Linked DNA regions of Homo sapiens. The protein of the gene in region 1 purifies or fractionates together with the protein of each later gene. This does not show direct contact. Each region holds a gene or a part of one and is shown in the gene's direction. Other genes may lie near its edges. The genes, in order: DNAJC6, ACBD3, MYH13, GULP1, REPS1, HK3 and PEX2.

What was found.
Region 2: the proteins of DNAJC6 (region 1) and ACBD3 purify together in Homo sapiens (affinity purification with mass spectrometry, with the first as the bait; one large-scale study listed by BioGRID). This does not show direct contact.
Region 3: the proteins of DNAJC6 (region 1) and MYH13 purify together in Homo sapiens (affinity purification with mass spectrometry; one large-scale study listed by BioGRID and IntAct). This does not show direct contact.
Region 4: the proteins of DNAJC6 (region 1) and GULP1 purify together in Homo sapiens (affinity purification with mass spectrometry; one large-scale study listed by BioGRID and IntAct). This does not show direct contact.
Region 5: the proteins of DNAJC6 (region 1) and REPS1 purify together in Homo sapiens (affinity purification with mass spectrometry; one large-scale study listed by BioGRID and IntAct). This does not show direct contact.
Region 6: the proteins of DNAJC6 (region 1) and HK3 purify together in Homo sapiens (affinity purification with mass spectrometry; one large-scale study listed by BioGRID and IntAct). This does not show direct contact.
Region 7: the proteins of DNAJC6 (region 1) and PEX2 purify together in Homo sapiens (affinity purification with mass spectrometry, with the first as the bait; one large-scale study listed by BioGRID). This does not show direct contact.

Annotation. Positions count from the first base shown.
Region 1 is NC_000001.11:65,382,184-65,386,236, forward strand, and holds part of DNAJC6 (auxilin), read left to right. Parts: intron 1-2,009; coding exon 2,010-2,143; intron 2,144-3,528; coding exon 3,529-3,723; intron 3,724-4,053. UniProt on the Homo sapiens protein: May act as a protein phosphatase and/or a lipid phosphatase.
Region 2 is NC_000001.11:226,158,955-226,163,007, reverse strand, and holds part of ACBD3 (Golgi resident protein GCP60), read left to right. Parts: intron 1-1,318; coding exon 1,319-1,477; intron 1,478-3,649; coding exon 3,650-3,824; intron 3,825-4,053. UniProt on the Homo sapiens protein: Involved in the maintenance of Golgi structure by interacting with giantin, affecting protein transport between the endoplasmic reticulum and Golgi. Involved in hormone-induced steroid biosynthesis in testicular Leydig cells.
Region 3 is NC_000017.11:10,300,267-10,304,140, reverse strand, and holds the end of MYH13 (myosin-13), read left to right. Parts: intron 1-642; coding exon 643-747; intron 748-849; coding exon 850-945; intron 946-2,437; coding exon 2,438-2,572; intron 2,573-3,175; coding exon 3,176-3,190; 3' UTR 3,191-3,276; downstream 3,277-3,874. UniProt on the Homo sapiens protein: Fast twitching myosin mediating the high-velocity and low-tension contractions of specific striated muscles.
Region 4 is NC_000002.12:188,571,224-188,575,276, forward strand, and holds part of GULP1 (PTB domain-containing engulfment adapter protein 1), read left to right. Parts: intron 1-4,053. UniProt on the Homo sapiens protein: May function as an adapter protein. Required for efficient phagocytosis of apoptotic cells. Modulates cellular glycosphingolipid and cholesterol transport. May play a role in the internalization and endosomal trafficking of various LRP1 ligands, such as PSAP.
Region 5 is NC_000006.12:138,978,180-138,982,232, reverse strand, and holds part of REPS1 (ralBP1-associated Eps domain-containing protein 1), read left to right. Parts: intron 1-4,053. UniProt on the Homo sapiens protein: May coordinate the cellular actions of activated EGF receptors and Ral-GTPases.
Region 6 is NC_000005.10:176,889,347-176,893,399, reverse strand, and holds part of HK3 (hexokinase-3), read left to right. Parts: intron 1-1,849; coding exon 1,850-2,012; intron 2,013-2,208; coding exon 2,209-2,363; intron 2,364-2,458; coding exon 2,459-2,578; intron 2,579-2,669; coding exon 2,670-2,765; intron 2,766-3,655; coding exon 3,656-3,755; intron 3,756-3,835; coding exon 3,836-4,019; intron 4,020-4,053. UniProt on the Homo sapiens protein: Catalyzes the phosphorylation of hexose, such as D-glucose and D-fructose, to hexose 6-phosphate (D-glucose 6-phosphate and D-fructose 6-phosphate, respectively).
Region 7 is NC_000008.11:76,989,648-76,993,700, reverse strand, and holds part of PEX2 (peroxisome biogenesis factor 2), read left to right. Parts: intron 1-4,053. UniProt on the Homo sapiens protein: E3 ubiquitin-protein ligase component of a retrotranslocation channel required for peroxisome organization by mediating export of the PEX5 receptor from peroxisomes to the cytosol, thereby promoting PEX5 recycling.

The DNA of each region.
Region 1 (4,053 bases):
TTATGAGCACATATCAAACCAACAGAACATTTCACATGACTAATAGACTAGTTGAGATAGTTTATTGGAGTCCTGCAAGATATTTCTTAGTTTTTTCTAGTCAAGATTGAGAAATTTGGCTAGGTTGTTATATATTTAGTTGAGTTGAGGCTGAATATCTGCTTCCAAAGGTAGGTGATTAATGGATCACCTTTCTCCTGGGAGAAGGCTTTATTTAGTTATTCATTTTAATCAACAACTTTGATGAAGATGTGGAAATTCAGCTTATCAATTTTCTTAGAATTATAAGGGTCACATAGTGAATTTGGATTTTAAAAGTTCTTGTAGGTTGGTCACTTAACAAAAATTAATAATATGAAATTAAATACAAGATAAATGTAAAGTCCTGAATTCTGGTTTTAAAAAATTAAACATATTTGCACATTACCTTAACATGTCATCTGGAAAAAATCTAGGGGTTTTAGTGGATAGAGAGAATAATAAAAGCTTATGTTGTTACTTAGCCTACATTTATACTAGCTTGGGCTGGGGTTATGTTAATAAAAGCATAGTGTCCAGAATAAAGAAGATGATATTTCTTCTCTAGTTTGGTCAGAATATATCTCATATCTTTCATTTCACATCTGGGCAGCATTTAAGGTTGTCATTTTAAAACTTGAATTTGTTTAGAAGAAATGTGCTAAATGATGATGTCTCTTAAAATGGAAAATCAAGTGAGGAAGAATAGAAGGGATTGAGTTTGTTTTAAAAGGGAAATAGAAGCATTGATAGAAAGGGAGGGTATTTCAGATATGTGAAGGACTGCCATAGGAAGAAAGGAGTAGGTTTATTTTTTGTTCTCACAAAAGGATGAGGGTCATTTAGTGGAAGCTATGGAGGAATGAAAGTCAACTCAACATATTCAGTATAAGGAAGAGCTCTGTAAACTGGAATGGGCTACTTCAAGTATGAGTAATCTCCCTGTCACTTAAAGTGTTCTAGAAGAAGCTAGGTCACATCTGTCAGGGATGTTACTGAATTTTGTCTTAATTAGCTTGAGCTGCTGTAACAAATATACCATAGACCGGGTGGCTTAAACAACAGGAATGTAGTTCTGGAGGCTGGAAAGTCCAAGATCAAGGTGACTGCAGTTCTTTTCTTTCTTTTTTTCTTTTCGAAGAGTTGGGGTTTCACCATGTTGCCCAGGCTGGTCTCGACCTCCTGAGCTTAGGCAATCTGCTCGCCTTGGCCTCTCAAAGTGCTGGGATTACAGACATGAGCCACTGTGCCCAACCAAGGTGCCTGCACTTGTAATGTCTGGTGAGGGCCTGCTTCTGGGGTGGCAGATGGCTGTCTTCTTGTTTTTCACATTGGCCAAGGGCAGAGGGAGTTGACAGCAAGCTCTTTTGTCTGTTCTTATAAGGGCACAATTCCCATTCATGAGATCTCCACTCTCCCTACCTCATTACCTCCCCAAAGCTCCACCTCCTAATACCATCACATTGGGGTTAGGATTTCAGCATATGAATTCTGGGGCATACAAACATTCAGTCCACAACAGATTTATTTCTACATTGAATGAAGTTGAATCTGGTGAAGGTTCTTTATTTTATACGAATCTAGGAACATACTTTGCATGAGATACATATATGCCATATCCCAACAAGCAGCATTTACCTAACCTGTGAGCTCGTTACTTCCAGTCCTAAACCAAGAGACTTCAACTATTAATTCAACAAGTCCAAAATTACTTTGAAGATTATATTATTTTTCACCAAATATATACAAATCAAATTGGGCTTCTCAGATTAGAATCAATTTTATTCTAAGGATAAGTCTTTCCTTGCTGCCTTTGATTTAAAAAGCTGAAACAAATTTTGGTTTTCAAGTGAATAATTTTTAAATGAAAAGCACCCACAGTTAAGAGGATTTCTCCTCTCTCTGTCTCTTAATTGCAAATTCTGCCATTTTCAATGGAGAATGGCTGATTTGATCATGTTCATAATGATTTTATGCATTTTCTTTGACAGGATGGACGGGCGGCATCATCAATTCTGGTTGGTGCTATGTTCATTTTCTGTAATCTCTACTCTACTCCTGGCCCAGCCATTCGATTGCTATATGCAAAGCGACCAGGAATTGGACTTTCACCATCCCATAGGAGGTAAAGTAAGCTAGATGCAGGCTAGGCACAGATGTAGTCTAATTGGTATCATGTACTGTTTTAAATCTGCCTTACAAATCCTTTCATAAGTTTCTTTTACTTTATCTCTGTATTAGTCCATTTTAATATTGCTATGAAGAACTACTTGAGACTGGGTAATTTATAAAGAAAAAGAGTTTCAATGGATTCACAGTTCCACATGGCTGGGGAAGCCTCACAATCATGGTGGAAGGGGAAGGAGGAGCAAAGGCACATCTTACATGGTGGCGGGGAAGAGAGCGTGTGCAGGGAAACTGCCCTTTATGAAACCATCAGATCTCATGAGACTTATTCACTATCATGAGAACAGCATGGGAAAACCCGCCCCCATGATTCAATTACCTCCCACCGGATCCCTCCCACAACACGTTGGGGATTATGGGAGCTACAATTCAAGATGAGATTTGGATGGGGACATAGCCAAACCACATCAATCTGACATTATCCTGAACTATGCAAAAACTGAATTGGATTAGGATATTAGATTGTCATTCAGTTTGTAAGCCCCCATACGAAAATTTATGATGTTAAAACTAGAAGGAAACTTTAAAGAATACTTATATCCAACTTCCCTCATTTTACAGGTGAGGAAACTGGGACTCAAGACAGGTTGTGATTTGCCTCAGGTCTAATGCCCAGTGGACAGAGCCAGAACAGCATTCTTGATCCCAAGCTCTAAGACCAGTCCCTTTTTGTTTTATTATACAGGTCTTTATTGAAAAACAGCAGTAGCTGGTTATACTTATCACTGGTGATCCTCCTGTGGGAAACCTGATTTAACAAAGGGAAATGCAAAAATACATAGAGAATAAAGCGTTTTAAAATTCACTTTTTCATGTAACTCTGATATAGAAATAAAAGATTACAAAAGATAATCTGAAAAATGGAATAAAAAAGAAAACTGTTTTTAGATAACATTGATTTTTCTTTTATCACAATTTCTTCATTTTTTTAAAAACTACATCTCCTTAATTTTTTGGATTAAAAGTGCTTCTGATGATAAAATTCTAAAATTTATCCAAAGCCAAATTTTAGCTGATAAATTGGATCTGCTAGATAAAATAGGAATAGATGTTCAAATATTGAAGTACTATAAAATTCCCATAAGCTTTTTGATTTAATAAATACCCCAGTATCAGTTCATTGGGGAAGTACAGCAATCTCAGTAGATAAAATGTTTCCTAAATTATTGATCGCATTATCTTTTGCTAGTTAATATTTAAGAAATTGATAGAATAAGTTTTTATTATAACAGTAATTTGCAAGAAGAATCTTCATAGCAAATATTGATTGCTTGCTTCTCCTGATGTGATGGGCCCCAAGAGAGTGCCAACCTTCTGTTTCAGATACCTGGGCTATATGTGTGACCTACTGGCAGACAAGCCCTACCGCCCTCACTTCAAGCCTCTCACAATTAAGTCGATCACTGTCAGTCCAATACCCTTTTTCAACAAACAGAGGAATGGATGTCGCCCTTACTGTGATGTACTCATTGGAGAAACCAAAATATATTCGACTTGCACAGATTTTGAACGAATGAAGTAAGTCATGATACTTTACTTCTTCCTATGTACTTCTCAATTCTCATGTAAATGAGCAGGAATGAGTTGAATCATATTCTTCCTGCAAGACTATATCATTGTGAAATAGCTGATATATAAAAAATGTTCAACATCAGTGGTAATCATAGAAAAGTACAAGTAAATCAGGGGATGTTATGGCCCTTTTTCAAATGAAACCATGATATAGGCTAAGGGACTAGCATAAGCTGTATACAGGATTAAGACCAAGGGGAACATGGGACACCTGGTCATTGAAGAAGGAGATGGCCTTGATGGGATTAGGTGAGGGTAATGGAAGAATCACTGATG
Region 2 (4,053 bases), about 160 Mb from region 1:
GCAACGTGGCAAAACCCCATCTCTACAAAAAAAAAATACAAAAATTAGCCGGATGTGGTTACAGGTCCCTGTAATTCCAGCTACTCAGGAGGCTAAGGTGGGAGGATCATTTGAGCCTGGGAGGCGGAGGTTGCAGTGAGCCAAGAATGTGCCACTGCACTCCAGTCTGGGTGACAGAGTGAGACCCTGTCTCAAAAAAAAAAAAAAAATAGGTCATGTTATTACAATATTTTGAGACTTGGCTGTGGCTCAGGTAGTTGTTAATCACTTATAGGAGTTAGAGGGGAGAAAGGTGAGGTAGCCCAGACAATTCTCGTGGTAGGTTTATGAAATAGTGTCTTATCTGATACTCCTTAGAAATCTTCCCTTTCATCCTGTCTGCAGGCTCCCTGAACACCATACCACTCTCAGACCCGGAAGATGTCCATTCCTAGCACAATAGGATCTGTTCTTTTTGGAAGGGTCTTGTGGGGTGGGTGAAAGCTGGGCAAGGGCTGCCCTGAGAGGTTAACCGTTCTTTTTTAAATTAAAAGCTTTACAAAAAATTTTAATTTCAGAAATAATACACAAATATATGCAATATAAAATTTTCATTTATGGCAGTATATGAAACACAAACTGAAAAAAATCTTTTTTCCCACATTTCTTTTAATTCCACTCTCCTCTGCATAGATAATAACTGATAAATTTAGGGTATGTCCTTCCAGATCTTTTCCTTTGTATTCACCTTTTTTTTTTTCATTAAGCAAGTGTATTACATGTCTTTACATATTAGGCAATGTATTTCTATCCTTTGGCTCTGCGATATTTCAGGGTGGATTTTTTACTTCTGTACACGTTTGTCGAGTGCTTGTTCTTTCCAGCACTGTGCTAAGCCCTGAGGATGTCGTGGTGTGAGATAGGCAGTCTCTTCCCCTATGGAGCATCTAGTTTAATGGGTAATGCAGATCTATTGCTGAATGTATCACACAAATTTAATTATAATGACAGCAGGTATTATGAAGGAAAAGCTTTTAGTGCTGTGAGCATATATTAGAGGGGATCCTTCAGGGTATAGGAATATCATAATGACTTAAGTAGTTTCTTATGATGGACACATTTCTGTTGCTGTGCAACAATAATTATTCTTGATGTGATTTGTATATTGTGCGATTGATTCCCTATAAGTTTCTGCTAGTAAAGTGTATGTATTTTAAATTTTGATGTATATATCCACATTGTTCTCTAAAAAGGTCATGTCAGTTTTCCCTGGGAGCTAAAGTTTTATTTTTAAACAGGATTCAACGTATAGGGTTCATTCTCTATCTTTGCCTTGTAGGAAGGAGGAAGAGGAGCGAAGGCGGCGTGAAGAGGAAGAAAGAGAACGTCTGCAAAAGGAGGAAGAGAAACGTAGGAGAGAAGAAGAGGAAAGGCTTCGACGGGAGGAAGAGGAAAGGAGACGGATAGAAGAAGAAAGGCTTCGGTTGGAGCAGCAAAAGTAAGTTTATTATGTGGCTTATGTTTTAAAATGAGAAATGGAAAAAAAATAGAATAAAAATAAGAAATGAGCGGGCCAGGTGTGGTGGTTCACGCCTGTAATCCCAGCACTTTGGGAGGCGGAGGCGGGCAGATCACCTGAGGTTGGGAGATCACCTGAGGTTGGGAGATGGAGACTATCCTGGCTAACACAGTGAAACCCTGTTTCTATTAAAAATACAAAAAATTAGCTGGGCGCAGTGGCATATGCCTGTAATCCCACCTACTCAGGAGGCTGAGGCAGGAGAATCTCTTGAACCCAGGAGGTGGAGGTTGCAGTGAGCCGAGATCGCGCCATTGCACTCCAGCCTGGGTAATGAGTGAAACTCCGTCTCAAAAAAAAAAAGGAATGTATTAGAAGGTTTGGGGGTTCACTTGCAGAACCCAGAGATTGGAAGCAGGAGCTGAGGTTGCTTGGTTGCGCTCTCTGTTTCTTGTCTCTGCTTCTCTCAGCTTATGTCTCTGCTTCATCCTTGCTCTCTGCAAATTGTCAACTGTCTGCTTTGGCATATGCAAGGCTGTCCGAGGATTTATTTGGTCTATGTTTCCATGCATCTGACAGAGACTGGCTGGAATCTGTGAGACCCAGTTGCAGTTTCCCAGGACAGAGAATCTTGTTGGTCCAGTCTATGTCAGATATCCATTTATAGTCCTTAGTACAAGATTTGGAGGCTTCAACTATTGCTTACTCAGTAAGGGCTTTGAGACTCAGAGACTGACAGGTTCTTCAAGAGGGAGCTGTGGGTACAAGGAGGCAGTGATTAACACCCATAAAACACTGGGAAGTAAGTCTGAGTTTGTAGGGGTGGCATGGCTTGTAGGTTAAACCAGAGAACATGAGAGTCCATTGATTTCTTCTCATTATTTCTGGGTAGTTCCTCAGAAAAAGGTTTAGTGCTAGCCTCAAACTAATCCAGGCCCTCATTCAACTTTGGAGAAAGACTATGAATGCAGCTCTTTTTTGGGGGAGGTTGTCCTAGGTGGATCGAATGTTGTGCTGTATGTAGGAGTTTGTGAGGCTTTGCTTTGTTATCTATTAATAGATGGCTTTGAGGTCTCTGTTAAGTTGGTCACATAAGTAAGTTAAGAAGCATGTGGTTGCTGGCTGTGGTGGCTCATGCCTGTAATCCCAGCACTTTGGGAGGCCGAGGCGGGCGGATCACTTGATTGAGGTCAGGGGTTTGAAACGAGCCTGGCCAACATGGTGAAACCGTCTTTACTAAAAATATAAAGATTAGCCAGGCGTGGTAGCAGGTGCCTGTAATCCCAGCTACTTGGGAGGCTGAGGCAGGAGAATCGCTTGAACCTAGGAAGTGGAGGTTGCAGTGAGCTGAGATCACGCCACTGCACTCCAGCATGGGTGACAGAGTGAAACTCCGTCTCAAAAAAAAAAAAAAGAAGAAGCATGTGGTTTATCTATAAAAGAATATGAGTATCTCTAAACTAAGCATGCCAAGATATTTTCAGTATTTCCTCTATTAAGACAGGCTTTAAATTAAATGCTGTGGACCCTTAATTTTTCACTGGCTTTATTTATACTTACCAGGGCCACCTGTAACATCTTCCAGCTATTCTTCTGCCTCTTACTGTTTTTTATGTATTTAGGTACAGAAGCCATAGCCAACAGTTAAATACCTCATCTATGTCAGAGATGACAATCCATCATCTTAAAGCATCGTGGTAAATTAGTGTAGCTCTAGAGCCAAACTGCCTGGATTTGCATCAGGCTGTAGCATCTGCTAGCAGTATAGTCTTGGGCAAGTTACTGAACCCTCTGTCAGAGGGTTGTTGTGAGGACTAAATGGGTTAGTATGTGTGAGTACTTTCAACACTGCATGGCACATAGTAAGGGCACAATAAATGTTAATAATTATGATGGTGGTCATGATGATGATGATCATATGCTTATCTTCCATCCCGAATTTTCCTGGAAAATCCTAAGTAAAAAATTAGAGGCCAGGCTTATTTTCTTAAATCTTTCTTCTGGACCCAGAACACATACTAATTGGTGTACATTACTAGCTTAGTTGTTTTTAAGAGTTACAGACTGTAAAAGTAAGTAATAAGGACATTTTATTTTGTCATGAACAATCTCCTGTAGCCAGACTAGTATATATATTTTTAATGTTTTTAGGCAGCAGATAATGGCAGCTTTAAACTCCCAGACTGCCGTGCAGTTCCAGCAGTATGCAGCCCAACAGTATCCAGGGAACTACGAACAGCAGCAAATTCTCATCCGCCAGTTGCAGGAGCAACACTATCAGCAGTACATGCAGCAGTTGTATCAAGTCCAGCTTGCACAGCAACAGGTACGATAGACAACCCTAGAATTCAGCCTTAGAGAGAGTTTTTAGTTTCATTGGAACCCAAGTTCTTTTTTAACAGTCGCAAATGAATTTTGCATTAGTTAGCCTCTAAGGTGTAAAGTAACTTTTGGGTGATCTTTTAGGCAGACTTGAGAATTGCACAGGCAATTGTGAGAGAAAATATGTGTTATCGAAGCAACCGATGATGTTATATTGTCATAAGGGTATTTGG
Region 3 (3,874 bases), on another chromosome or scaffold:
TCCCTCCCCTAGCCCCCTGCCCCCTGACAGGTCCCAGTGTATGATCTTCCCTTTACTGTGACCATGTGTTCTCATTGTTCAACTCCCACTTATGAGTGAGAATATGTGGTGTTTGGTTTTCTGTTCCTTAGTTTGCTGAGAATGATGGTTTCCAGCTTCATCCATGTCCCTGAAAAGGACATGAACTCATCCTTTTTTATGGCTGCATAGTATTCCATGATGTATATGTGCCATATTTTCTTTATCCAGTCTATCATTTATGGGCATTTGGGTTGGTTCCAAGGCTTTGCTATTGTGAACGGTGCCTCAGTAAACATATATGTGCATGTGTCTTCATAGAATGATTTATAATCCTTTGGGAATATACCCAATATTGGGATTACTGGGTCAAATGGTATTTCTAGTTCTACATCCTTGAGGAATTGCCACACTGTCTTCCACAATGGTTGAACTAATTTACACTCCCACCAACAGTGTAAAAGTGTTCCTATTTCTCCACATCCTCTCCAGCATCTGTTGTTTCCTGACTTTTTAATGACCATTAGGGGATCTTGAGTTCACTCTAGAATGATTGGCCCATGAGTCCATGAGAGAAGCCTGGGAGAGGAGATTTGAATTCTGTGTTCCTTTCATCCTACTCAGGTGCGGGAGCTGGAAAATGAGCTTGATGTGGAACAGAAGAGGGGAGCTGAAGCCCTGAAGGGAGCCCACAAGTACGAACGCAAAGTCAAGGAGATGACTTACCAGGTAGGGGTCCCAAAAACCTCCTCAGTGAATGCTGTATGGACCAAGCCCCATCAGAAGTGACCATAGGTTTGCGGGCCCCTGCCACGTGTACTCTGTTTGCAGGCTGAGGAGGACCACAAGAATATCCTTAGGCTCCAGGACCTGGTGGACAAGCTGCAGGCCAAAGTGAAGTCTTACAAGAGGCAGGCTGAGGAGGCGGTAAGCACAGGAGGTCCCCGGCAGTGCCCACAGACAGACAGTCCCTGGGGCATCCTGGGTGTCCCCGCCATCCTGGTTGGTAAAGTCCCCTGAGCCTCAGGCCTGAGTTTGTATTTGCAGGCTATAAACACAGAGACAACTGCCCTCTTCCTCTCCTGGTCCATGTTAAGCCTTCACGACCTTCACCATCTCTGTGCCCTCTTGCCTCACCCTACTTGGCCAGCCCCCTCCATCCCCTTCATCCTGCCCACCGTGACTCACTTGACACCCCCTAGAGCATGTTAGCCTACTCTGCTGGCGTTGGATCACCCTGACTCTCCCGAACCACCCCAGTCTACCCTCAAAGCCATTCCTGCTCCCATGACCTGACCTGAGATACCTCATCCTAATTCCCACCATCCCACCACAGCCCACCCTCCTAGGCATCTCCAGCCTTCCTCAGCCCTCCCTAACTCCCTCCACTCCATCCCATCCTTTTTCATCCACCCTTTGATCAAATAGGTGAAATCAATAGGAAAGAAATGGAATGGGCTAAAATCAGTGTTTCCCAAAGTGTCTTCTGAGGACACTGGTTCTGAGGGATGTTAATAGCAGGAAGGTGGGGCTGCCATGGGGAGGAGCTTATCCTTTTATAGAAAAGAGATCGTTTGGGAAAATCTGAGTTAAACAAAGTTACCCTGGTTGCTTTACTTCAAGGATATCTCAGATTTTGTAGATGTTGTAGAGTTTGATATGTCATCAACTCTACAAAGTGGAAGAAGGGTTCCAGAATATACCATTTCTCACTCTTCATTGACTTTAGAACCTTCTTATTGTATGCAGAGCATCCCTCAGGGCTACTGTTCTGAGGACCAAAATTTAGGGGAGTCTGCCCTGGACAAATGACTGAGCTTCTCCCATTGCTCTTTTTCCTCCCTTCCCTGGAGCCTGGTTGGTTCAATCCTGACCTCAGGGAAGCAGATTTGAACTGGTTCAATATTGAGAGCAATTCACGCACATGGGATGAGTACAGTCCCAGCAGGATCGGCAGGCTAGAGGGTGCCCAGGAGGACATTTTAGTCAGGAATCCTTGACATTCCCCCAAATAGACCAGTACAGTGGCCTGGCCTTAGACAGATGGTGCTGGGCAGAGGCACAGGACGAGGGAGACTTGGGCCATTGGTCTCTATACCTTCAGGTGCCTTGGGAGAGCTCTGGACTTAGGTCTCCCCCGAAGATCTCTATGGAGCAGATACCATATAGAAGAGATTCAAGGGAACATGTGGAGGTCCTAGAAGGGACAGTAGCACCTGCAAGGTGATCCGAGGCAGTACACATGGTCGTGAGCTGGGAGCCTTGTCCTCACACGCTGGAGAAAGCTTCCCTGCCCTCTCTGCCATCAGGGAATCCAGGGCCCTGGTTGCTTAACTCCTCAGAGGCCTTCAGAGACAGGGCACCTCATAATCGGACTGAGAGGCTCTACAGCGTCATACCCCCTCTGTCTCCTGTGCAGGAGGAGCAGGCCAACACGCAGCTGTCCAGATGCCGGAGAGTCCAGCATGAGCTAGAGGAGGCCGCGGAGAGGGCGGACATCGCTGAGTCCCAGGTCAACAAGCTGAGGGCCAAGAGCCGAGACGTGGGCAGCCAGGTAAGAGCAGGTACCTGAGATATAGGGGCCAGCTAAGAACAGATATTGAATATGGGGGCCAGGTAAGAGCGAATGCCTGAGTGTGGGAGGCCAGATAAGGGCAGGTACCTGAGATGTGGGGACCAGGTAAGAGCAGGTACCTGAGATGTAGGGGGCCAGGGAAGAGCAAGTACCTGAGTATGGCTTCTTCCCAAGAAATCCCAAGCCCCGGGGGAGTCCCATGGACCACCCAGGGAGAGCTTGGAAGATGACTGTTGATCCTCTCCTTCCTGCTGCTGGTTGCACACTCCCAAATGCTACTGTTTGAGCAAAGACTCCTGTGGTTCCAGGCTCTTGAAAGAATGAGCAGTGAGGCACGACACTGTCATCCCTGTCTGTCCCTGTTGCTACAGATGCTGCCCATGAAGCCCCTGTTTTGCAGGGCGTTTGTCCTGTCGCCAGTAGCTAGATTGATTTGCTTTTACAATGTTCAAAGGGAAACAACGCCATTCCTTAATATTCCTCTGAAGTTCCAGATTTTCCAGCTGCTTCACTTCAAGATGATGTTCAGTCTCCCATTTAGTTGACTCATTTCCTATGTACAATTATTTTTTTCTCCCACAGAAGATGGAAGAATGAGGCTCACCTGATGCTCGTTGCCATGGGACACCTCCGAGAGAGTGGAGGGAAAATGTGTGAGAAATAAATTCTCCTAAATACTCGGATTCCCGGCTCTGCTGTGTTTATTATCATGGTCCATTCCTCTTCTATGAAGCTGATATTTAGATTCTTGCTGCTCTATCGTAAATATAAAATAAGGAATGTGAAAGTGGAGGATCTTTGCTCCAAGTAGAAAACATGGAAATCCAACCCATGGCCAGGTAAATCACTAGCTTCCACAAACATTTAAAAATAAAGACCCTATATCACTCTACATCTCTCAGAATAGCTATTATCAGAAAGACAAAAGTGTTGGTGAGGACGTGGAGAAAAGGGAACTCTTGTGCACTGCTGGTGGGAATGCAAATTGGTACAACCTAATAGCAGTTTTTCAAAAACTTAAAAATGGAACTACCATATGATCCAGCCATCCCACTACTGGGCATATATCCAAAGGAAATTGAATCAGGATCTTTTTTTTTTTTTTTTTTTTTTTTTTTTTTTTTTTTTTTTTTTTTTTTTTTGAGACGGAGTCTCGCTCTGTCGCCCAGGTCGGACTGCGGACTGCAGTGGCGCAATCTCGGCTCACTGCAAGCTCCGCTTCCCGGGTTCACGCCATTCTCCTGCCTCAGCCTCCCGAGGAGCTGGGACTACAGGCGCCCG
Region 4 (4,053 bases), on another chromosome or scaffold:
TTATGGAAGCTTATTGTGCTTCAATACGTAGGATAAACTCAATGAAAATGTTCATTTCTTAATATCTAATACTAGAATCATTCACAAGCTCATCACTATGAAAAAGGATGTTTCTATAGAAGTTTCATTTAGGGTTTCAAACTTGGCACACTCTGGAAATGGGTCAAAAAATGATTTTTCCTGTAAACTCACATTTTTCCACCTCCCATTTGAAAGAGTGAGTATTTCCATTGCTTGGCAGATGGTTTGTGCCAGTAGGGCTCCTATGGCCTTGATGAGAGAGGTTGGGACTGAGGTACCAATGTATCTATGCTGGAGCATCCTCTTCAGGTTCTGGTTTTATTCTGATATTCCTTCTTATTTTTTCTTGTCACTGTCTGCTGCTCACCAGGATTATGATTTTTTTCTTGCCTCTCTCGCTGCTAGGGACAGAACATCAGTTCAAACTCATTATTCAACCTTCCATCCCAAGATGGAACACACATCCTCTTGGGTTTTGTTGAAATTCATATTGTAAGCCATGTTGCGAAATATGCTAGGAGAATAAGAATAAATGTACTTCATTTATGTGAAGGGAAGTAACTTTTTCAAGGAGTTTTGATAACGTAGTTGTTTCTGGAATTCATCACATATGAAGAGTAGCTTTGCTTTCATTTTTGTGTTGACAAAGGAGTAAAATAAGCTCCATCACCTTCTTGGATGCAAATCCAAACCTGGTCATTGTGTAACCTCTTTATCTGAGGAAGAACATTTGAGAGGAGCAAAGAGGTTTCAAACATATTAATAAAACTGCAGCCTACCTTTTTTATCTTCCCAAAGCAGACACTGCTCTGAGAAGAAGGTGGGTCAGGATTATTAATGTGCATTGGTGATCTCATAGGGTTACTGAGTCAGCTTCAGAAATGACAAAGGACAGGAGGAATGACAAGATGACCCTTGCTTCAGTGTCTTTGACCATTTGGCTGAAATAGCCATTTCAAGTGGAAAGCATGCAAGTTGGTATATAAATGAAACATAGCCTATTCATAAGTATAATTCATTTATTTAGCAATTCTCATTAGTAGAGCCAGTTATATATAAAGAGTAAAAATAATGAAATAGCTATGTTTTAAAATGAATTAGCACTCCTGAGGTTACATCATTTAACAATTATTTTAGGCATTGTGTTCATCTCAGCCTGGATTTATCTAAATAAAATGCTTCAAAAACTACAACTAAGAGGTTGAATTTAAAAACAAATCACTTTCTTTAAATCACGGTCTTACACTGAGTTCATATATATGTAGAAAATTTATTGTATCCTTGATCATTATGGAAATAACAAATTATAACTTTGCAATCTACTTATAGTCTTTTGTCATGTAATGTTGTTGTCTACACTTTTTCTTTAACTTTAAAAATTATTTGTCACATGGCTTTTTAGCTCTTAAAATCTTATCATATGATTTTTTAAATTGTTGATATGCTGGAAGATATACATCTTCATTAAGATAGAATCTGGAGGACATTATACTAAGTGAAATAAGCCATGCACAGAAAGACAAATATCACGTGATGTCACTCATATGTGGAATCCAAGAAAGTCAAACTCATAGAAGCAGAGAGTAGACTAGTGGTTGCTGGGGGCTGGGGCAGAGTTGTGGAGAAAGGGTCTAGAAGATGATCAAAGGATGCAACATTTTAATTAGGAGAAATAAGTTCAAGAGATCTCTTGTACAACATGGTGATTATAGTTAATAACAAGGTATTATATACTTGAAAATTGCCAAGAGTAGTTTTAATTGTTCTCACAACAAATATGTGAAAATAGAATTTATTTGATTTTTAGAAGAAAGTGAACTCAAGAGCATTTTAAAATTGCTAAAATTTAAATGTAAAATTAAATGCTAAAATGTAAAATGTAAATTAATGAGATATCTAACCAATTCAAATGGTTTAAAAAACATTGTTACAGCATTTGCTAATGTGTTTCCTATTAAAAAACATTTTTGCCTTTCATTTCAAATTTTAGTAATGTAGCTATGAAATAAACTCGTAGAACACTTAAGTACAGCTTATTTATCTCATATCTATTCAAATGAGCTCCCAAATTCCTGATATTAAAATAAAACAAAAATAGTTACCTGCAATTATTTTTGAAGATTTATTAATGATTCAGATTATTGAATTTGAAAAACAGACAATGCAAATTGCAAATAATAAAATGTGAATTTAAAATATTTAATAGCTTACCATGTGTCTGCAATAAAGCAAATTTCTGTTAAGTTAGAAATGTTTTACATCTGTTCTTTCTTATGAAATTTGAACATCAGTTTTACAGGACACACAGCAGGAACACAAAGTACCTCACAGAGTGCCCCCATGGCTAGCAAAGTAAATGTTTAATGAGTTTATAACCCTGGAAATAGGACTCTGTGGGTTTTATGTGTTTGTTTTGAGCTCAGAGGACTGAGGATTAGAGTGCTCCAAAATGAGTAAGTTCTCATCAGTTTATTCAAAGGATTAGAGGCAGTGATCTACACATTCATTAAAGAAGCATTGAAGTAAATTATGAATCCCGTGATGCATATTGAATTACAACATAGGTGGGTATGGTGTATGCAATTAATTTAGCATCTGATGAGTTTTTAGTGGTGAGAGGAGCCCCTAACACAGAAAACTCTTCACAACTGACCAGCCCAAGACAGGTCTTGATCCCATTGGAAGCCAAATTTTTCAAGTCACAGAAAGGTGACACTTTTGTCAAAAATCTCTAATTGAGGTGTAGTTCTTTATAAATGATTTAATGCTATAATTTGGTTCACAAATATATACTTATAAGCACAATAATGTTCTAAAATATCTGGATATGCTGGTCTAACACAATATAGTTCACACTAAGCAATTGCTAGTCAAATAAAAGACATATTTAATCTTAGCTTTAGTATAGTCTCTTTGGGGAAAGGGAAAGAAAAAAAGTAGGAATGGAATTTTGGGAGTTGTGGAATTAAAAGTAAAGTGAAAATAAAAATAATGTAAATCACTATTATAGATATTATTTTATTTTCAGTTTATGATGAAGTAGAAGATGAAGCCAGATGTGGCAAGCAACAGAAACATTCTTGATAAAATTTGATTAGGCTGGGCATGGTGGCTCATGCCTATAGTCATAGCACTTTGGGAGGCAGAGGTAGGCTGATAGCTTGAGTCCAGGAGTTGGAGACCAGCCTAGGCAACATGGCAAAGCCCCATTTCTACCAAAAATACAAAAATTAGCTGGGCATGATGGTGCATGCCTGTAGTCTCAGCTACTTGGGAGGTTGAGGTGGAAAGATTGCTTGAGCCGGGGAGGTGGAGGCTATGGTAAGCCTGGGAGGTCAAGGTTGCAATGAGCCGTGATCATGCCACTATATTCCAGCCTGGGTCACAGAGTAAGACCCTGTCTCAAAAACAAACAAACAAACAACAACAACAACAAAACTTGGCTAGATAACTAAAAAATGACAAGCCATCTTCTCTAACAAGAGGTCCAAAGTTAAAGTTGAATTTCCGTAATACAAGACAATGATTCAAATCTACCAAATCGTCTAATAATATATTACAGTCTTATTGATGTTGATATCCTTATTCTATGTTAAATCATAAATTTAAAATGTGAGGCCCAATGCAGTAGAATGATCTACATGGACACCTTTGTATTTTAAAGAGTCTCTGTTTAGGTGAGAACATACGTGCATGTTTCTACTTTCCTCAGAGACACTCTAAGGGAAGGTTGCTATTTCTTAGAAAGTTTGTCAGTCACTTATATGTTATATACATGAACATGAATTGGTCATACTGATGGATTTTGAATTGCAAACTAAATAATTTTAGGTTGAAGCCTTGAATAAAAATATTCAAGACTTCTAAAAAGTTCCCTCAAGGTTTTATGGTGTACATTTTAGTTTTGGTTTTGGTCTTCCTAGTCCCACTGCTTCATCACTGGGATTTTGAAATTGTTCTTAGTAGTAGACCGTATGTTACAATGCATATCACTTTAATTTTCATTTTGTCTCACTTGTCTATTGTATACAT
Region 5 (4,053 bases), on another chromosome or scaffold:
TCAATTACAAGATCTGGCATTAGTGATAAGTTTAAAAATAGGAAAGCAGAGCTCATTTCTGTGTTGAAAGTTATAAACTTAATAAGTCTCAGGTTTGTTATTCTGGAGTAGTGGTTTTTAGTTCTGAATCACTAAAATAATTGTAATAAACTACAGAAATAATCTTGCCATAATCACTTACCTATACACAGTTGAAAAAGATACTGTTTGTGAAAGAAGTCACAGTCAATGTGTTTCTGTAGTGTCCTATTTATTTACTTTTAAAATTTCTGTCTTCTTGAGTTTCTTGTGCTAGTTTCAGTCATTTTGTTTGTTTGTTTGTTTGTTTTAATCAATAGCCCAGAGTTAGAGTTTTAGTATATTGGGAATTCGTGCCAAACATTTGATGGAGCGACACAAGAGCATGAGAAGCTGGTATAAAGAGCACTAACTGTGGGAGGCAAGTTCCAGTTCTGGCATCAGCTAACTTTGTAACCCTGAACAAATCACAGAATGTCTGATATAGCTATGGGATTGGGTTTTCATGATTTCTGACTCAAATGAGAGTATCTTTGTGTAGGAGCGGCTAATCTATTCCAGCCACACCCCTTTAAAAGTAGCACAAAGTCTTGTGGTTAGTTGCTCCACTATCTTGACACTGGAACAGGATTATTTGACATTCTTTGAGGAATACAAAGAGGAGATATATACAAGAGGAAACTGATGAAAGGGTCATAAATCCATGGGTGCTTAGTTCTTCAAGGTCGTGAGAATTTGAAATGGGTGATAAGACTTGTCATTTCTGATGTTTTCCCTTATATAGGTTTTATTTTCTGTAGCCTTTCCTATTATAGATGCATCTTCACTCATCTTTTCCCTCTGTGTAAGAAATTTGTCTAATGGAAGTTAAACTGTATACCAGATTTCATTGAGATTTGATAAATTCTAAGACTTAGGCTTTTTAAAATTAAGAATACTACATCTCTTCTGCATTTTGTTTCAAGAATTAGCCAGGTGTTGAATTTGGGGTCTGTCTCATTAAATAATGAAGACAGAATTTATTAGTCTGTCTCTTTTGGGCTGTTGATTCCGTTGAGATTCTGCTGCACGCACTGGACATCTGCTTAGAAAACATAGTTCCACAGAATTTTGCACTTAATTTGTGATTTCCAGCCTTCCCCTAATTGAGTCAAGCTCATCTTATGGACTTCTACATTAATTCAGTTTTAAGGAAGAGCAGGCTGACCTGTGAAATGCTAAACACTTCTGTCTTAAATCAGTTTTAAATACTTTCAACAAAGACTTCTTTGTGGCTGTTCTTTGTATTGGGGGTATACATGCAGTGGTGAAGGATCAAGACATCTTCTCTGACTTGTGCCAATGTCGAAAAGAAAAAGAACTGGCCAGGCGTGGTGGCCTGCACCTGTAGTCCCAGCTACTTGAGAGGCAGAGGCAGGAGGATCACTTGAGCCTGGGAAGTTGAGGCTGCAATGAGACATAGTAAACATAGTAGTGTCATTGCACTCCAGCCTGGGTGACAGAGCAAGTCTCCGTTCCCCCCCCCCCCCGCCCCACCCACAAAAAAAAAAGGAAAAAAGAACTGTGTACAATAATAGAGAATCATTGGGTGGTAGAATCAGAGGAGGTAGTGGGGACCTACTTAGGTGTAAGGGAAGGCCCCTTAGAGGATGCCTGGATGGGGGGTCAGGGGAGGGAGAATAAGGTGTTTCATATAGAGAGAACTGGGAAGGGCCTGAGGCTGTGAAGAGCACAGTGTGTTTAAGGAACTGAAACTGTGGACAAGAGGGGAGAATGGCAGGGACTGCATAAGGCAGGCCCTTGTACTCAGTGATAAGGAATTTGGATTTTAGTGGAAATATACTAAAAGTTTTTATTCGGGGGTGTAGCATCATCTGAATTATATTTTAAAAGATCATGCTGACTGCTGTATGAGCAAAAAGAATACTGGGGGCAAGTGGAAGCAGATACGCTAGTGGATATGCAACAGTCCAGGCAGCAGACAGCAATGGCTTAGATTAGCGAGGTGGCAGTAGGATAGAGAGCAGTGGACATCTGTGAGAATTTTTTAGGTGGTAGAAATACGAAGGCATAAATAGGGTTGGATATGGAACATAAGGGAGGGGAAAGAACTCAAGGATGTTGCTGGAAGTTGCCACTATTGGATGGTTGGAAGAGGAGTGGATTTTGGGGGGGATTGTTTCGTGGGAGAGGTAAGGGTGAATTCAGCAGTTCCCCTTTTGTCTATCTTAGTTCTCAGAAGCCTGTAAGATTGTCAAGTAGGCCTGTTAGAGAGATCTATACATCTTGAGGAATTCAGAGATACTTGGCTTAGAGATGTCAGTTTGAAGATTGTCACTATGTTAGTGATACTTAAGGTAATGAAATAATTGAAGAAAAGATTATAAAGAAGAGAGAAAGATTGACTAGAACTGGAATCCTGAGGAATGCTGAACATTTCTAAGTTGGGTAAACTGGAAGGCTTCTTGGAAGGACGCTAGGAAGCACACAATCAGAGTGGTACAAATTGGGAATGTGTAATATATAGTATTATCATGTCGTGGATGCCAAATAATGCAAGTATTTCAAGGGGGTGGGTAGTCAGCTGTATTGAATTTCACTGAGAGGCTGAGAACATGTGGGCAGGAATGTGGCCATTGGATTTGGCAACCTGGAAGTTATTAGTAACTTCAGTGAGCCAGTTTCATGGACTAGTGTAGATGGATGCCAGATTTGAGTGATTTGAGGGATAAATGATGGCTGAGGAACTAGAGACAGGGTGTATAGATAGCTTTTAAAGAAGTTTACCTATGAAAGGGAATAGATACAGGGTAGAAGCTAGAGATGTATGAGGATATAAAGGAAATCTTTTTGTTTGTTTCTTTTTGAGTGTGAGAAATTCTGCAGAATGATTTTAGTTGTTAGGATTGCTAAGATAAGGGAGATGAGAAGTCCTTGAGAAAGCAGGAGTGGTCAGGATCCTGACTGCACAGAGTCCTTTGATAGGAAGGGGATACTTCTTCAGTTTTTTTTTTTTGTTTTTTTTTTTTTTTTTGTGATGGATTCTCGCTCTGTCGCCCAGGCTGGAGTGCAATGGCCTGGTCTTGGCTCACTGCAACCTCCGCCTCCCGGGTTGAAGCGATTCTCCTGCCTCAGCCATCAGAGTTGCTGGGATTACAGGTGCCTACCACCACGCCTGGCTGATTTTTGTCTTCTTAGTAGAGACAGGGTTTCACCATGTTGGCCAGGCTGGTCTCGAACTGCTGATCTCGTGATCTGCCTGCCTTGGCCTCCCAAAGTGCTGGGATTACAGGCATGAGCCACCGTGCCCGGCCACTTCCTCAGTTTTAACAGTGGGGAAGAAAGAACAACATGGTTACAGACGCAAGTAGGAATATAGATTTAGTGGGTGGAATATAGATTTAGTGGGAGGATGTTCTGGCCTAATGGCTTTTATTTGTTTTCTACAAACTGAGGCAGGATTAACAGTGTAGTAGTAACATAAAATCTTAATATGAAAGTAAGAAAAAAATACATTCACATTAGCTTCAAAGAGGCCTAACATACTTGGGAATAAACTTAAGAAAAGAGTCACCAAGATTTTTGTATTTAAAACTACAAAACAGGGCTGGGCACAGTGACTTATGCCTGTAATCCTAGCACTTTGTGAGGTTGAGGCGGGCAGATCACTTGAGCCCGGGAGTTTGAGACCAGTCTGGGCAACATAGGGAGACCCCTGCCTGTAAAAAAAAAAGATAAAATAAATTAGCTGGGTATAGTGGTGTGCACCTGTGGTCCCAGCTACTTGGGAGGCTGAGGCAGGAGGATGGTTTAAGCCTGGGAGGCAGAGGTCAGGGAGGCAGAGGTCAGAGAGACCCGAGATTGCGCCAATGGACTCCAGCCTGGGCAACAGAGCCAGACCCTGTCTCAAAAAAAAAAAAAGAAAAGGAAAAGAAACAAATAATTGGGCTTTATTAAATATTTTTAAAACTTTTACAATTGAGAAGATACTTAAGAAAGTATAAAAAGATAAGCCACAGATTGGGGAGAAATATT
Region 6 (4,053 bases), on another chromosome or scaffold:
AGAGCCAGAAAAAGGGAGTGCGAGGACTCAGCTGTAAGTTTTCTCAAGCCGGATCATCTGGGGTTTCTTTCCAGCAACTTTCATCAGCCTTGAGTTCTTTTCAAGGGAACTTTCTAGGTTTTATAAAGCTTCACATTGACATAGAAACATCTCTGCATTCAGGTAGATATGGGTTCAAATTCTCCCCTGCCCCTTCACAGCTGCTTGGCCCTGCAGATGACTTGCCCTCTCGGAGTCTCCGTTTCCATATTTCTAACACTTGGGCAGCTGGGGCTCAGAGGGGCAAGGCTGAGACCCCGCCTGTCCTGCAGCTCTTTGACTTTGCTGCCCACTGCCTGAGTTCCTGGATGTGCAGCCTGTGAGCAAACAGGGTCTGCAGCTTGGCTTCAGCTTCTCTTTCCCTTGTCACCAGATAGGCCTGGTCAGGGTGAGATAGAGTGGGCATGGGCACCCCTAGCAGGCATGGCTGCTGGAAGCATGTGCTGTAAGGCAAACGTGTAAGTGGACATCTGGCACCCCAGTTAGGATGATTCGCCTTCTTAGGGATCTGTTTCCCATTCTCTTCCTAAAGCAAGAGGTGGGACTGAGTTGTCCTTATCTCCCTCAACTGGCAGCTTCTCCTCCCAGCCTCTCCTCCCTGGAGCGGCCTTATTATCCAGGTGCCTGAGTTGTTATTCCAAAGATAAGTGTCCAGTTTGGGGCAATAGGTCATTGAAATGGAACTCCTGTGTGACAGGAAGTGGGGGCTTTGGAAAGTCTGAGCCTGAGGAGGATGGAGTTGCCAGGCTGTGACCCTTCAATGAATCCAGGGAGGCTGTTGGGGCTTCTTTGAAGGATGGGTGAGAGAGTCATCTAGGGGAGGGTATTTGCTCACAGGGATGAGGTCCCTGGGGCTCTTAAGCTACTGGGCTTCTGGTGGAGTGACAGCCTGGGGTGTCCTGGCTTCTGCCTTCCCTGCCTTCTCACCTGCCCCTTCAGACTCCGATCCACTCCCGGATCAGTCTTCTCCAAATCCATCCCCTTGCTCTTCCCCTGGATCTTCGAATGGCTTGTTCCCTTCCTTCATTTAGATCACCTCCTCAGGGAAACCCTCTTGAACTCATATCTAAAAATACCTCTTTCTACCCTGGTCACTCTCTAATTTCTTATCCTGCCCCCCTACGTTTAATAGCCACCATCACTACTGGAACCAAATTGTATGTTCACGTGCTTAATTTCTGTCTCCCACCCTGGAATCTAAAGCATTTGTTGCTTCTTGGGTGGTTATGTGTGTGCGGTGCTTAGAATACAGCTGGGTGCATAGTGAGGGCTGGAGCAATGTTTTGGGAAGGATGACTGACTGAAAAAAGGACCATCCTCTGCAGTGTGGTCTCCAAATGCTCTCGTGCTGGGCTTTTTCAGGCTTCAGAGTCTGAGAGTGGATTAGGAGAGGGAAACACTTGAAGTTTGTTCGTGCATTTGTTTATTCTCTTGTTCGTTCAACAACAACTCACTGAGAGACTCTTGCTGTGGGTCCTGGGGAGCCAGAGAGCAATCATTAGTGGTATGGCAGGAAGAAGGTCTTGCCAAACCCTGAATTCAAAGAAGAGGAGGGGTAGGGTAGAGGATGTAAGAAATTGAGAAGGAGCCGTGAGGTAATGGGGCAGGAGGAGGAAGAAGGTGGGTTCTCTTTCCAGGACAGAGCCTTCTGAGGATGCCAGAGCTGGGTGCAGGCTGTTGGCAAGAGAGTCAGGGTGTATGAAGAGCCGAGGAGTGGGCTGGGCAGGGCAGGCCTCTGCCTTGTTTGGAGGTGGGGAGTCTGGCCAGCCCAATGGTGCTCCTTCCCAGATGTTGGCCTGTTTCTCCCCAGGTGCAGGAGTGCCTGCAGCAGTTCAAGGTGACAAGGGCACAGCTACAGCAGATCCAAGCCAGCCTCTTGGGTTCCATGGAGCAGGCGCTGAGGGGACAGGCCAGCCCTGCCCCTGCGGTCCGGATGCTGCCTACATACGTGGGGTCCACCCCACATGGCACTGGTGGGTATCATAGATTGAGATGCGTGGCCAGGCCTGGAAGAGGGTACTGATCTAGGGGAGGGAAACGTTCCTTATTCCTGTCCCCCATCTCTATGGCCCCTTGACCAGACTTTGCAGGCCTTAGGAATTTGGGAAGTGGGCAGAGGGCTCTGGTCTTGCCAGCTGCATGGCTTTCTGTGACCTGCTTGCCCTCCAGAGCAAGGAGACTTCGTGGTGCTGGAGCTGGGGGCCACAGGGGCCTCACTGCGTGTTTTGTGGGTGACTCTAACTGGCATTGAGGGGCATAGGGTGGAGCCCAGAAGCCAGGAGTTTGTGATCCCCCAAGAGGTGATGCTGGGTGCTGGCCAGCAGGTAAGCACTCACTGCCCAGCCTCTGGGGTCTGGGGGCCTGGCTGGGTGGCTAGGGCTCAGATGGGCAAGGCTGAGCCCCCCCACTTCTCCTGCAGCTCTTTGACTTTGCTGCCCACTGCCTGTCTGAGTTCCTGGATGCGCAGCCTGTGAACAAACAGGGTCTGCAGCTTGGCTTCAGCTTCTCTTTCCCTTGTCACCAGACGGGCTTGGACAGGGTGAGGTGGAGTGGACATGGGACGCTGGGTAGAGGGTGGCTGCAGCCCCATGAAGGCCGTCAGAGGAGTAACCCAGCTTCTCTACCTCCAGAGCACCCTCATTTCCTGGACCAAAGGTTTTAGGTGCAGTGGTGTGGAAGGCCAGGATGTGGTCCAGCTGCTGAGAGATGCCATTCGGAGGCAGGGGGTGAGTGGAGGGAGGGGTGACAGGAGGGCTGCCCATGTTGGCCTGGGCCTGGCACACATGCGTTGGGTCTGGGCTTCTGAGAGAGTTGCTTTCCTCTTCTCTTCATGTCCTCCATCCAGTTTAACCTCCATCCAGTTTAACCTATACATGGTACATGTTGCTACCATTCCCATTGTATAGGTTAAAAAACACTGAGGCTAAGAAAGGTCAAATAAACATTCAGGACCTGGGGCAAAAAAACATGAATAGACTTTGACCTCCTCCTCAAGGTTTTCACAGTCTAGATGGGGAAGCATTCTAATAAAAGATTGTCCGTGTCAAGGAGGAGTGCGTGGACAACTCTGGGAGCACTACGGAGGAAGCACTGGCTCTTTGATCAGGGGCTTGAAGGAGGAGTTTGCCTCCCTTCAAGTCAGGCTGGGGCTGGGGCGGATGATCTAGTCTCAGAGAAGGCCACACACAAGAGTCTGGATGCTGGACAAAGGCTGATCCGTCTGGGCTAACCTCTTGTGGTGAGAAGCCAGTGCTGGGAGGAACAGGCTTGGGGAGCCAGGCAGGATGACAGTGAGGCTGGCAAGGCGCAGAGTTCAAGGAGGTGCTCAGTCTCAGGAAACTCATCCTGGTCCTGGGAGATGGTGAGGGTGGACGTCACTGTGACCTGGGGGCGCAAGTTGGGGGTTAGGGAGGAGCTGAGGGTGGGATTGGAGGAAAAGTTCCTATAAGGTGGGAGCCCAGAGCATCTGTGGCACAAATGTGTGTGGCATGCAGACATGTGTTTCATGGACTCTATGTATCTCCTTCAAAGCCAGGGCCCCAGCCCTGCCCATCCCCTGGATTCCCTCCTCTGGCCACTCAGGCCAGCCTTGACCTCTGCCCTCTTCATCATCTAGGCCTACAACATCGACGTGGTTGCTGTGGTGAACGACACAGTGGGCACCATGATGGGCTGTGAGCCGGGGGTCAGGCCGTGTGAGGTTGGGCTAGTTGTAGGTGAGCCATGGACCATTTGTGATGACAGGTGGAGGGTGTGCTGCCTGGCTAGCAGGCCTTGACAGGGTTGTCTCTGCCAGACACGGGCACCAACGCGTGTTACATGGAGGAGGCACGGCATGTGGCAGTGCTGGACGAAGACCGGGGCCGCGTCTGCGTCAGCGTCGAGTGGGGCTCCTTCAGCGATGATGGGGCGCTGGGACCAGTGCTGACCACCTTCGACCATACCCTGGACCATGAGTCCCTGAATCCTGGTGCTCAGAGGTGACCTGGCAGGGGGCCCTGACCTTTGGTTCCA
Region 7 (4,053 bases), on another chromosome or scaffold:
TCAAAGCAATTCTTTTTACAAAAAGCAGCTTGTAATTTTTAAAAATATTCAAGTTTGAGCTTACATTTATAAAACTAAATACTAATTTACAATGACCAATAATATAGAAATTGTTAAAGCTTACTTAAATGATTGAAGGTAAAGTCAAAATAGACTTACCAGTGGTTGGGCATGGGTGTTGGCAATCCTTGTAACAGAAGTAAGGAGAGTACTAGTTTACCAAAAGCACTGGGAATTTTTGACCCAAAAATGTGAAAGGATAGTATAGTCTTCCTCTTGATTTCCATGGTTCTTAAGTAAGTTAAATTACTTTGACTTTTCAGGGAAGTTGTTAGCATCATAGGTAGGCCCCTGAATTGTTGCAGGAATCCTATAAATCTGGTCTCCCAGAACGGCAGTTTTTCTTTTCTTCAGTTTTATTGAACTCTGCCGTCAGATTAATCTTTTGAAATTTATATCCCATTATGTCTCTTCTCTTCAATGATTATTCATGCCTACAGAATCAATACAATTTCCTTAACACAGGTTCTTTTTACAATGTGGCTAGGTTGACACTTCAGCCAGTCTCTCCTGCCAGCCTGCTTTGGTCATGACAGATGACTTGTCTCCTTCCAGATAACAGATGCAGCCACATTGACGGGGGTTAAATAACCAAGGATGTAGCTCATGGTGCAACTCATGTCCGTATGTCCCAGCTAGGCTATGGTCAGGAGCTTGCTATTTCTGGGCTTTCACACAGCCTGTTCCCTTGCCTTACATACCATTTTCCTCTTTTCTCCCTGGAAAGTTTTGTGATCTTTTATAATGTTTTCACGTTTTGGGATCCATTCTTCACTTCAGAGATCAATGGCCAGTCCTGATTTCCTATGTCTTTTAAAATGCTTGAATAAAAGGAAGCTAGCTGACAGTTAAATATTTAGATTGAATCTCTAGTACCTAGGAGAATGCCTTGTATTTGATAGGTGTCCAGTATATATTTGTTACATTGAGTAACCATTTGTCAGAGAATTAGAATTCACTAAAACACAAACTGCTTACACTATATTGGGAATAATTTTATGTGATATAAAGTCGTTTATGGCATTTATGCTTCATACCTATTATAACAAATCTTGTTGTACTGCTGTAGAGGGAAGAAGATTCCATAATTGGGTTAATTGAATTTCTAGTTATTTTGATTTCATCATTTTCTTCTACTCCTTTGCTGCCCTTTTCTAAAGAGAGTATTCTAGAATAGCTGTACCTGCCAGAAAGAGAGGAGTGGGGTGGGAGTATGTGTGATGAGGAAGAACTGAATGTAATATGCTGGTGATGAATACAAGTTTGTTGCTTGTCTTGGACTGCCTGTACCATGTTGTGTGCAGCAAAGCACCCTAGAGTCAAATATTGTAAGTGTGCATTCATGAGGTTTCTTTACTTCAAGATAACAGGCACAACTATGTTGATAGGGGCTAAATAATGACAGGAGCAGGTCATGCGGGAACCCATCTCTTTTCTCTATCCACACTGTGTCATATCCTTTCAGACAAGGTGCAAGTTAAGTGGGCAGTGAGTTCCACTGAACCATCATATCTCTGCCCACTCCTGCCTGGCCCCTCCCACGTGCACACATAAGGGTGACATTATGTTTGTGGTTTAACTGCCACAATTTATGTCTTAATGATGTCAATATTTCCTGGAAAAACATTTTGATACAGGTTGATTGAGGCATTACTATAACTAACAGTGAAGGTTTCAGTCTTTCGAAATGAGATTTGCCAAAATTAGTTTGGGGCCTGTTACTTTTCATGCTCATCCCTAGCCAAAGCAACAATAATGTAATAAATAATACTGCTTTATGGCTTCTAAACCACTTTCGTAACATTATCTGGTTTAATCTCAACAACTTTGTGAGGTAGCTGTTATTTCCAACTTTTAGGAGAAGAATCCGAGGCTAATGAAGTTTTTTAAGATCTCATAGCAAGTAAGTGACAGAGCTAGAACTTGAGCCCAGGCCTGTTTGATTTTAAATCTGCTTTTTCCACTCTGTGACAGATGCCTAAAGAAGAATGTAGAGCATGGGAGAAGTATTCCACTTTAATGAACTATGGTGTGTAATAGACAGTGTCTGTTCTATGTTTACAACTAAAAGAAGTCACAAAAATGACTAAAATGTTGGAAAATAAAACCTAAAACAAAAAATAGAGAGAAATTATTCATCTGGAGGAGCAAAGGCTGAAGAACAGTTTAATAATAGTCTTTTGGTCTATTAAAGAGTCTTACGTAGGGAGGAGAGCAAACCCAGCTGTTCCTAATCTACACTGAGGCCAGGCCTGGGGAGGAAAAGAAGAAAGAAAAAAATGTTAAACTGTAACAGAAGGGATAAGAAAGAATTTTTTGATAATAAATATTGTTAAATATTGTATTGGTTAAAGACCGTTTTAGGTCTCCTTTTCTGGCAGTCATTAAAAATTCCTGTTTTTACTGAATGTTTTTAAGTGTAATTCCTCCAAAAACAAGAAACTTGAAATAGATGATTCTTCTGACAAACCACTCACTCTGACCAGTTTCTCACTAAATATCACTAAGGAACCTGAGGAAGAGATGCAGTTATGAGTTGCTTATCAAGGGGGTACATTCTGAGAAACGCATAGTTTGATGATTTCATCATTGTGCGAACATCATAGGGTGTACTCACACAAACCTACTTGGTATAGCCTAGTTCACACCTCGTTATATTTTACTGTGCTTTCTTCTGGTTTGCAGATACTGCTTTTACAAATTAAAGGTTTGTAGCAAACCGAGTCAATCAAGTTTATCTGCACAATTTTTTTTCCAACAGCATTTACTCAACTTGGTGTCTCTGTGTAACGTTTAGGTAATTCTTGGCAATATTTCAGACTTTTTTTTATTATGATATTCTTAGTGGTGACCTGTGATCAGTGATCTTTGTTATTACTATTGTAACTGTTCTGGGGCACCACGAACTGTATCCATATAAGATGGTGAACTTATAAATATTCTGGGGCACCAAGAACTGTATCCATATAAGATGGTGAACTTAACAAATATTGGGTGTTCTGACTGTTCTGCTGACTTGCCTATTCCCTAAGACACAACAATGTTGAAATTAGGCCAATTAAGATAAGCCTACAATGGCCTCTTAAGTGTTCAAGTGAAAGGAAGGGTTGTACATCTCTCACTTTAAATCAAAATCTAGCAATGATTTTGCTAGATTTTGCTAAGCTTAGTGAGGAAGCCATGTCAGAAGCCAACACAGGCCAAAAGGTAGACCTTTTATACCAAACAGCCAAGTTGTGAATGCAGAGGAAAAGTTCTTGAAGGAAATTAAAAGTGATCCTCCAGGGAACACATGAATTAAAGAAAGTGAACAGCCTTATTGCTGATGATGTGGGACAAGTTTTAGTGGTCTAGATAGAAGATCAAACCAGCCACAAAATTCCTTTAAGCCAAAGCCTAATCCAGAGCAAGTTCCTAACTCTCTTCAATTCTTTAAGACAAAGAGGTGAGGAATCTGCAGAAGAAAAGGTGGAAGCTAGCAGAGGTTGGTTCGTGAGATTTAAGGAAATAACCATTTATGATATAAACATGAAAGCTGAAGCAGCAAATGCTGACATCAGAGCTGCAGCAAGTTATCCAGAAGCTTTAGCTAAATAATTGATGAAGGTGACTACGCTAGACAATATATTTTCAAGATAGACAAAAGGCTTATATTGGAAGAAAATGCCATGTAACACTGATAGCTAGAGAGGAGAAGCCAATATGTGGCTTCAGAGCTTCAAAGGACAGGCTGACTCTCCTGTTGTGGGTTAATGTAGCTGGTGGCTCTTAAGTTGAAGCCAGTGCTTATTTACCATTCTAAAAATTCAAAGACCCTTAAGAATTATGCTAGAACTACTCTGCCTGTACTTTATAAATGAAAAAAACAAAGCCTGGATGACAGCACATCTGTTTACAGCATGGTTTACTGAATATTTTAAGCACACAGGTGAGACTTGTTCAAAAAAAATTATTTCAAAATATTACTGCTCATTGATATGCACCTTAGTCACC